2 linked regions of the Homo sapiens genome follow. The protein of the gene in region 1 purifies or fractionates together with the protein of each later gene. This does not show direct contact. Each region holds a gene or a part of one and is shown in the gene's direction. Other genes may lie near its edges.

The links. The genes of interacting proteins can lie anywhere in the genome.
Region 2: the proteins of TMED8 (region 1) and FUNDC1 purify together in Homo sapiens (affinity purification with mass spectrometry; one large-scale study listed by BioGRID and IntAct). This does not show direct contact.

The regions. Positions count from the first base shown.
Region 1 is NC_000014.9:77,345,655-77,350,750, reverse strand, and holds part of TMED8 (protein TMED8), read left to right. Parts: intron 1-4,270; exon of another isoform or gene 4,271-4,272; coding exon 4,273-4,402; intron 4,403-5,096.
Region 2 is NC_000023.11:44,535,264-44,540,359, reverse strand, and holds part of FUNDC1 (FUN14 domain-containing protein 1), read left to right. Parts: intron 1-1,817; coding exon 1,818-1,893; intron 1,894-5,096. UniProt on the Homo sapiens protein: Integral mitochondrial outer-membrane protein that mediates the formation of mitochondria-associated endoplasmic reticulum membranes (MAMs).

The DNA.
Region 1 (5,096 bases):
AGCCTCAAGCTCCTGGACCATGCAACCCTCCCATCTCAGCCTTGTGAGTAGCTAGGACCACAGGCATGAGCCACCACACCGAGCCTTAAAATATGTTTTTTAAATAAGCAGAACCATGTTTTTTCAGAGTAGCATGCACAAAGACAAAGAGACAATTTTAGATGTCACACACAGTAAGTCAAGCTAATGATTCAGATAGCCTGTTGTAGTCTCACCTTTCCAATATTATAAATGATAGTCTGATCCAGAATTTCTCTTTTATTCCCAGGCAAAAATTAACTTATTCATTTTTTATTCAACAAATATTTTGGGGCTAATATTTATTCAACAGATGTTTGTTGGGAGCCTACCATGTACCTGATACTGTTCTAGGTACTAAAGAAACCACAAATGAACAAAATAGTCCATCACTGCTCTCAGGGAGCTTATGTTCTAGTGGGGGAAGTGGACAGAAAACAATTACACATCATACTTCACAGACTCTTAAGTTGCCGTCAACTGTAAGTTGTGCTTTCACGTCCCACCAAGAGAGGAAGAAATGCTTAAGATGGATCATCTAATAGACCCCCCATATGCAACTGGGATACCAAAAACCTGCACCTTCAGTGAAAATATAAAGACAAAAATCCCCCACACAGAAAAGGACAGCAAGGAAGCTTGATTGTCTCAAACTTGACACTGTGTCATAGGAGGAAAAAATATCTCCCCTGAGAATAGGAACCACCAGTTGGTATTAGCCAGTGTCTTGTCTAAATTCACTCTGCCAGGAGGATTAAACAAAACCCTAAACAGAGAACTTAATTTCAAGAAGTCTCAGATTGGTAGCATTCCTAAGTACTGGCAGAAGCAAATGCAAATCTCTCGTGGAAAGAGTTGATGTCAATCCAGGCCCACGGCACTTTTAAGATATCATCAATTTTTAAGACATCCTATCTTTCAGTTGTGTTAAAATCTAAAAGCCAGTGTGCATCTTGCAATCAACAAAATATGCTCCATATCATGTCAGGCAGTAATAGGTGCAGTGAAGAAAAATGAAGCTGGGTAAGGGCAGAAACAGTGACAAGGCCAGGAAGGGGCACACATTTTATATACAGACCTCTGAGAAACCTCTCAGCAGAAAACCTGCAGGAAGGAAGTCTTCAGTTAACTAAAGAAGAGTTAATGTCCTAGAAGAGTATTCTAGGCAGAGATTACAGCAAATGCAAAAGCTCTCAAGTGGGAGAGTACTTGGGGTGTTTGAGGACTATCAAGGATTGAAGAGGCTGTTGTGGCTGGAGGGACCAGGGCAGAGTGAGGATTCTGAGAGGTGAGGTCAGAGTGCAAAGGGCCTTAGGGCTGGGCGAGGTGGCTCACGCCTGTAATCCCAGCACTTTGGGAGGCAGAGGCGGGTGGATCATCTGAGGTCAGAAGTTTGAGACCACCCTGGCCAACATGGTGAAACCCCGTCTCTATTAAAAATACAAAAAATTAGCCAGGCATGGTGGTGCACACCTGTAGTCCCAGCTACTCAGGAGGCTGAGGCAAGAGAATTGCTTGAACCAGGGAGGCAGAGTTGCAGTGAGCCGAGATCCGAGATCATGCCACTACACCCCAGCTTGGGCGACAGAGCAAGACTCTGTCTCCAAAAAAAAAAAAAAAAAAAAAGGGCCTTAGAGTTCCAGGTGGCAGGCTTGGTTCCCAGTGCTGTGCATACAGAGGCAGTGAGACCCAGTGCCTGCCACCAAGCTTACTTTCTAGTAGAGGAGGCAGATGATACACAGTGTCAAGAAACAGAAATGGACTATAATTTCTGGGTTGAAGAGCATTAAAATAGACCCACAGCCTAGGCCAGTTTACAGCTTACACTGAATTACCCAAGTGAACCTATAAAGATCAACAGAATCCCACAGCTCTGATTCTTGGAGTGACCTCCTCTTGTCTGTCCTGAGGTAGGTTGGAGTAATTTTGGATATTCCAAAAGATGGCTCTGTTTTATCTGAAGGAGTGATTCTTCTTGTTTATGTTAAAAAAGAAAAGAAACAAACTAATAAACTCTAAAATGAAGCCTCCGTTTCCCCCATGAGGTGTATACTACCATTTTCCAGTCATTTACTCAACCTCTTTGAGGAAATGATGCCCTCAAGCAGGGATTCTCAGACCTTTATACTCTTAAAAATTATTAAGGACCCAAAGAATTTTTGTTTGTGTGGGTTATATCTATCAATATTTACTATATTAGAAATTAAAACAGCCGGGCGCGGTGGCTCATGCCTGTAATCCCAGCACTTTGGGAGGCCAAGGTGGGTGGATCACGAGGTCAGGAGATCGAGACCATCCTGGCTAACATGGTGAAACCACGTCTCTACTAAAAATACAAAAAAATTAGCTGGGTGTGGTGGCCGGCGCCTGTAGTCCCAGCTACTCGGGAGGGTGAGGCAGGAGAACGGAGTGAACCCGGGAGGCGGAGCTTGAGTGAGCTGAGATCGCGCCACTGCACTCCAGCCTGGGCGACAGAGTGAGACTCCGTCTCAAAAAAAAAAAGAAATTAAAACTGAAAAATTAGAATATGGTTATTTGTTCATTTAAAAATAATAACTCATGACATGCTATATATAAAACATGTTTTTACTTAAAAACAACTAATTTTCAAAGCAAAGAATGTAGTACAAAGAGAGACATAAATCTCTTTAATGTTTGGCTTAATAAAAGGCAGTTGGATTCTCAGCTCTGCTTCTGAGTTCATTCTATTGCGGTATCACATGTCATATAGTCTCTGGAAAATTCCACTGCACACTCTTGAGAAAATGAGAATGAAAAAAGGGAAATAACATTTTAGTGTTATTATGAAACAGTTTGAACTTCATAGACTCCCCCGAAGGGCCCCTAGACCATACTTGGATAACTGCCATTCAAAAAAATCCATGTCACCTTTTATCAGCAACAGATTCCCAAAAGGCCTGGGTTATTTTGCTACAACCGTGGCACTAATTTTCTAGTTTTTGTGAGGCCAGGGGAAATGGAAGAGAGCATAAATCATTCCCTTGCATCTTTATAATCAACTATTCATGGCTGAGCACGGTGGCTCACGCCTGTAATCCTAGTACTTTGGGAGGCCGAGGCAGGCAGATCACCTGAGGTCGGGAGTTCAAGACCAGCCTGACCAACAACATGGAGAAACACTGTCTCTACTAAAAATACAAAATTAGCCGGGTGTCGTGGCACATGCCTGTGATCCCAGCTACTCGGGAGGCTGAGGCAGGAGAATTGCTTGAGGTTGTGGTGAGATGCATCACTGGTGCACTCTGCCAAAAAACAAACAACTATTCACATAGCTGTGTTTGAAGCCATTGGGATTGTTGATTAATGTGCTTTAAAAAGGAGAGAAAGTGATGACCCCTAGCACTGAACGGGGACAGGGTATGAAACGGATCTGCTGAAAGACTGCCTCAGGGATAACTGCAGAGAGGGTTGCCTTGATCATCATTTTGTACTTTGTTTTGGTGCCCAGTCTCCCTTAGGCAGACCTCCTCCTTTTGCTTCTAGCCAGTGGCTTTGTGTGTAGAACTGAACTGAGATTCTACCAATTCCTCGGTTAAAATTCTGTGGGCCCTGTGGGCCGCAGAGTGAGGAATAACATTGGAACTCACAGAAGCCGAGGGCAGGATGGTGGTTAATAGGTGTTGGGGCCAGGGGGTGGGATGGGGAGATGTTGGTCAAGTGGTATAAGGTGTTAGAAGGAGGAACAAGTTCTGGAGATCTTTGTACAACATGGTGACAATAGTTAATAACAATGTATACTTGAAAATTGCTAAGACAGTAGATTTTAAATGTTCTCACCACAAAAAGGAGTATGTGAGGGGATGGATATGTTAATTAGCTCAATTTAATCATTTTACAATGTGTACATATATCAAAACAGCACATTGTACACCATAAATATATACACTTTGTCAACTAAAATAAATAAATAAAAGAAACAACAATGACAAAAAAAAAAAAAAAAAAAAAAAACCAGACCAGCAGTCCATCTCAGATGATGGAGCTGTGTGTTTTCCATGGTTCTCCTAGCCTTTGACCTGGCCTTGTTAGTCTTTGTTTTCACACTGTCAACACTTTACTGTGGACCAATTCAGCCCTGGGCAGTGGTCGGCTAAGGTGACAGTAGAGCTAAATAAATGCCAGGGGCAGGTGGGGCAGGGGGTATCTCGAATGTTGTTTTATTTCAAAGTTTCTCCAGGATGATTGAGTCTTTTCAAAGAGTCCTTGAATTAACATGCTCTCTTCCTCTGAGAGGCCACAGATGGTATCTCCAGTGAGTAAGGATGCCACGGAAGATCTGCGGAAAGCAACTGGTCCTTTGGAGGCTCAGGCCTTGGTGAAACAGGATTTGCTGCCTGCAGACCAGGCCCAGGTCCTCAATGAGGTAGGGGGCAGATTCTGGCTCTTTCTTATGAAAGGAGGCACCAGAATGTGGACACATAGTGGTTGGGTTGGAATTAGAAAGCACTGCGAGGGTGGCTCCCGGAATTCTCTCTTTGCCCTCTAATTTAGGGCATCTTGGTCTTCATTATTTTTTGGAGAATGATTATTTGTATCTTCCACAGGGCCCATCATTGTACTGGCACCCAGTAGGCACCGATTCAGAAAACGAAGTGTTAGAGTGAATGTTCATGTGTTCTCTAAAATCCTCTTCATTGAGGAGCCTGAAGTCATTGGACTATTTTGCTCTTACTTTTCTTGTGGTAGATCTATTTAGTATTTATGATAAAGATTCCACAGAAGCTTTTTTTTTTTTTTTTTTTTGAGACAGGGTCTCCCTCTGTCGCCCAGGCTGGAGTGCAGTGGCACGATCTTGGCTCACTGCAACCTCCACCTCCTGGGTTCAAGTGATTGTCCCACCTCGCCTCCCGAGTAGCTGGGATTACAGGCACATGCCACCACACCCGGCTAATTTTTGTATTTTTAGTAGAGGCAGGGCTTCACCATATTGGTCAGGCTAATCTCGAACTCCTGACCTCAGGTGATCCACCCGCCTTGACCTCCCAAAGTGCTATGATTACAGATGTGAGCCACTGTGCCTGGCCTTGATTTTTTTTTTTTTTTTTTTTTTTTGAGAC
Region 2 (5,096 bases), on another chromosome or scaffold:
CTAATAATTATACAGGCGATTTGTTGCAATGACTATATTCAGTGTAGTAAATTTTTGCAATTTTCTTAGGATGTAAAACTGATGTGATATTATGGTGTATATTAAGGAGGAACAGTTAATAGGCACTAACCTAACAAGTTAGCAATTTAGACCAATTCAAGACATGTATAGGAGGCTGAGGAGATTTTATTTTGCTGTAGGTAGCTGTAGGCTTTTGATCATGACAAAAAATTAAAACTATTAGGATGGGTCCTTGCTAGGAGAGATGGGAGGTGTTGAGACCAGTTAGAGGGCCCTTAAAGTGTTCTGGAAGCAAGGTAATGATGACCTTGAGAGTGGAAAGGAGAAGACAGTCAAATAATGTTTTGGAGATAAAATATATAGAACTGTGGAGGCCAGGTGCGGTGGCTTACACTGGTAATCCCAGCACTTTGGGAGGCCGAGGCGGGTGGATCACCAGAGGTCAGGAGTTCAAGACTAGCCTGGCCAACATTGTGAAACCCCGTCTCTACTAAAAATACAACAATTAGCTGGGTGTGGTGGCGGGCATCTGTAATCCCAGCTATTCAGGAGGCTGAGGCAGGAGAATTGCTTGAACCCGGGAGGCGGAGGTTGCAGTGGGCTGAGATGGCACCAGTGCATTCCAACCTGGGTGACAGAGCGAGCTCCATCTAAAAAATAAATTAATTAATTAAATTAAATAACAGAAATTTATTCTCTCACAGTTCTGGAGGCTAGAAGTCTGAAATCAGGATGTCAACAGGGTTTGTTCCTTCTTGGAGGCTCAGAGGGAGAAATCTGTTTTATGTTTCTCTGCTAGCTTCTGGTGGTTGCCAGCAATCCTTGTCATTCCTTGGCTTGTAGACGTATTACTCCAGTCTCTGCCTCTGTTGTCCTCACATGTCGTCTTCCCTCTGTGTGCGTCCTTATCGGATTAAAGGCCCACCCTGTCCAGTATGATCTCATCTGAACTTATTACATCTGCAGTGACTCTGTTTTCAAATAAGGTCACATTTAGAGGTTTTGGGAAGGATATGAATTTTGAGGGGGACACCATTCAACCCAGTGCAGAAGGCTAGAGTTAGAAATATAGGATTCATTTGCACAGTGTGGATCTGGAATGCTGAAGGGAATGTGAGCTCACTGAAGGAGCGAATTAATGACAAAAGAAGTATGAGCTGACACAGGGTAGATGAGACACAAAAAACATTTAATATAAAAATAGGTAGATATAGATAAGGAGGCCTTTAGAAATGTGGGCTGAAGTATAGTTATTGAGTGGAACAACAGCTGGACCTGAAAGGGTAGGAATGGTAGGAAAGCTTTAGATAGGTAGAGCTAGGAAGAAACCCCTAGAAGCAGGGAGATTAATAGCTTGAGCAAAGGTGATGACCTATTTGGAGGTTAATGGGGTTGGAGCCGAAGGTGGGGGTCAACCAGGTGTATGGACCATCTTGACTGTATTAAGCAAAACATCACTTTTATTACGGGAGGTTTCAGCTTATACAAATGTAGGAGGAATATAATGAACCCCTGAGTACTTGTCGTTATTTTAGTAGCTGCTCTTTTTTTTCTATAAATTCTCCTCCTCTTCTCTCCGTCCCTTATTTTGAAGCAAATTTCAGACATTTTAGATTGTGCATTTTTGACTAGCCTGTATAACTGAGGGGTTTCTGAGAAGGTTTCTGAGCAGGTAAGGGATGTGATCAAAAGAAATGCAAAGACATAAGATTTTATTAGGAAAGCAATGAAAAGTAGAAGAGGGAGAGGGTTTAGTACATAATTGATTGTTTTCATCTTTTGTTATTTGATTAAAGGTGTGCAGGATTTCTGTTCCAGAAAGTTGGAAAACTTGCAGCAACTGCAGTAGGTGGTGGCTTTCTTCTTCTTCAGGTATGTCAGAGCTTTAAGCACTTGCCTTTGCTTTCATAGAAGGTGGAATTTTTCTTTTAGGCATCAGTTTATGGAAGAGCTACAATGAGTTTTGGAAGCTGACTTTTGTCTTGAAAGATAACAATTTAAATACTTCTGAGTTATTAAGCATAGTTTGATCCCAGCTATTAAAAAGACAGCCATTACCGAGCGCATTGGCTCACGCCTGTAATCCCAGCACTTTGGGAGGCAGAGGCAGGCAGATCCCTTGAGGTCAGATGTTCAAGACCAGCCTGGCCAACATGGTGAAATCCCGTCTCTACTGAAAATACAAAAATTAGCTGCCATGGTGGTGCACGCCTGTAGTAGTCCCAGCTACTTGGGAGGCTGAGACAGGAGAATTGCTTGAACCCAGGAAGCGGAGGTTGCAGTGAGCCGAGATCGTGCCATTGCACTCCCGCCTGGGCAACAAGAGCAAAACTCTGTCTCCAAACAAAACAAAACAAAACAAAAATCCATAATCTTATATCTGAGGCAGATAGATTTGAAGTTTTAGTTTTGTTCATATTCTTGTAAGTATAAGATCTAAAAATGCTTTGCCATTAGAGGATGTTTATCAGGGCATCATCTGGCATTCATGTCTGTTTGGCATGTATTTTTTCAAAAATATCATTCCTTGAAGATCAAATATAGTAAATCCAAAAATTGAAAATCTCTACGAATGAATGTGAGCAGCACTTTTAAAGATACAGAGAACTGTCACTTGTACTAGATTTTAAAAATGATTGATGTTCATAGCCACCAGAATCTGAATTCAGCACCTAAGCCATCGATCATGTAATAACTAGTGTAGTTGTAGTACAAGGGGACTAGATTTGTATGTATGAAGCACAGATTTTGAGTTGTTCACTAAACAGCCTTTTAAAAATATATATGTTTTCTTTCTTTTGGTGACATTATTACGAATAATTGCTTATTACTTGTGGTAAGAGGTAAAAAAAATGATTAATACCTAAATTTAGTTCTTTGGATGAATATGCCAGCATTAGTACAGATGATAATTTTACTTAAGCTGATTTTGACTTGGTTTTATATGGAATCAAGAGCATATTTTATTCCATAGCTATTTTGAAGACTCAGTTGTCATTTCTGTTAGTGTAAAAGGGTACTGGACTGAAGCAGAGTTTCCTAAAATGTTCACAGAATGGAGAGAAGTGTATATTTTAATCCACTCTGCATGTCAGTTTTTCAGAAGTCCATTTCAGTTCACTCAATATGCACCATTCAAATCCACATTTTGTCATTGCCACCTCCCACTTTTCCGCATTTAGTACACGTAGTCTTTGAAGTTTTTAAGGCAGAGCAACATAGGACCTATCTGCATCAAACCAGTTTTTCCCACAAATACGACTAACCTTGAAAACTCAGTAGAAGGAAAGTGAAAGGGGAAATAAAGTAACAAATGGCTTTTAGGCTAATTGCCTAATATTCTTTAGGCCCACTTTCATATTTTTATGACCTTTCTTATATTTAAAGGTAAATATTAGTTTATTTAGAACTTAAAGCTTTTCTAGTAACAATATCAAGTGTTTTCCAATAGATATTTATTACACTGCCATCTTAAAGTACACAGTCTCTTCGTTTTAATTTTTTGGAGTTATACATCCTTATAATTCAAAGGGCCAAGTACTTGTGCAAGGCTTGTTACAGATTAGAGTAATCCTCCACCTCTCTCACTACCCCCATTTTTCCATCCCTTGAGACATCCAGTTTGCACTCTTAACTGATTCTTAAGGTAGTAATCTCTTTTTCCCTAAACAAGTTAATTGGACATTTCTTGATCTTTCAGTTTTAGGTGTGAACTATTGGCTTCCCATTATGGAATGGGAAAATTTAGCTGTCATTTATTGACCTGTTTTGTTTTCCCTATACTTCCCCAAATCTCACATACCTGAATGCTTTCTTCCCTCTCCCTCAATCGTCTGAGTGTAGTTACTTCCCTTTTTTCATAATTGTGTTAGATCATTCATTATATGGAGTTCACTGAGATTGATTACTTGGAGTTCACTGAACTTCTTGAGCCTGTGAATTTATGTCTTTAATCATGTTTGGGAAGGTTTTGGCCATTATTTCTACTAGGAAGTTTGGGATTTTTTTTTTTTTTTTTTCGAGACAGAGTCTCGCTCTGTCGCCCAGGCTAGAGTGCAGTGGCGCAATCTTGGCTCACTGCAACTTCCACCTCCCGGATTCAAGTGATTTTCCTGCCTCAGCCTCCCAAGTAGCTGGGATTATAGACTACAGCTGCCTGCCACAGCACCCCGCTAATTTTTGTATTTTTAGTAGAGATGGGGTTTCACCATCTTGGCCAGGCTGGTCTAGAACTCTTGACCTATTGATCCACCCGCCTCGGCCTCCCAAAGTGCTGGGATTACAGGATTACAGGCGTGAGCCACCACGGGCGGCCGGGATTATTTCTTTTCTTCTTCTTTTTTTTTTTTTTTAGACAAGAGTTTTGCTCATGTTGCCTAGGTTGGAGTGCAATGGCACAATCTCGGCTCACTGCAACCTCCGCCTCCTGGGTTCAAGCGATTCTCTTTCCTCAGCCTCCGAAGTAGCTGGGATTACAGGCACCTGCCACCATGCCTGGCTAATTTTTGTATTTTTAGTAGAGATGGGGTTTCACCATGTTGGCCAGGCTGGTCTCGAACTCCTGACCTCAGGCGATCCACCCGCCTTGGCCTCCCAAAGTGCTGGGATTACAGGCGTGAGCCACCGCGCCCAGCCAGGATTCTTTCTTTTTTTTTTTTTTTTTTTTTTTGAGACAGAGTCTTGCTCTGTCACCCAGGCTGGAGTGCAGTGGTGCGATCTCAGCTCACTGCAAGCTCCGCCTCCCAGGGTCACGCCACTCTCCTGCCTCGGCCTCTCAAGTAGCTGGGACAACAGGCGCCCGCCACCAAGCCCGGCTAACTTTTTTGTATTTTTTTGGTAGAGACAGGGTTTTGCTCTGTTAGCCAGGATGATCTCGATCTCCTGACCTCATGATCTGCCCGCCTCGGCCTCCCAAAGTTCTGGGATTACAGGTGTGAGCCACCGCACCTGGCCCAGTATTATTTCTTTAGACAACTACTAGTTGTGTAAATCACCTTTCATTGTCGTATGTATCAAATAGTTCATCAGTTTAACCGTCTGGGCAAACTTGGTCCCAGAGTCATCTGTCCTGTTTG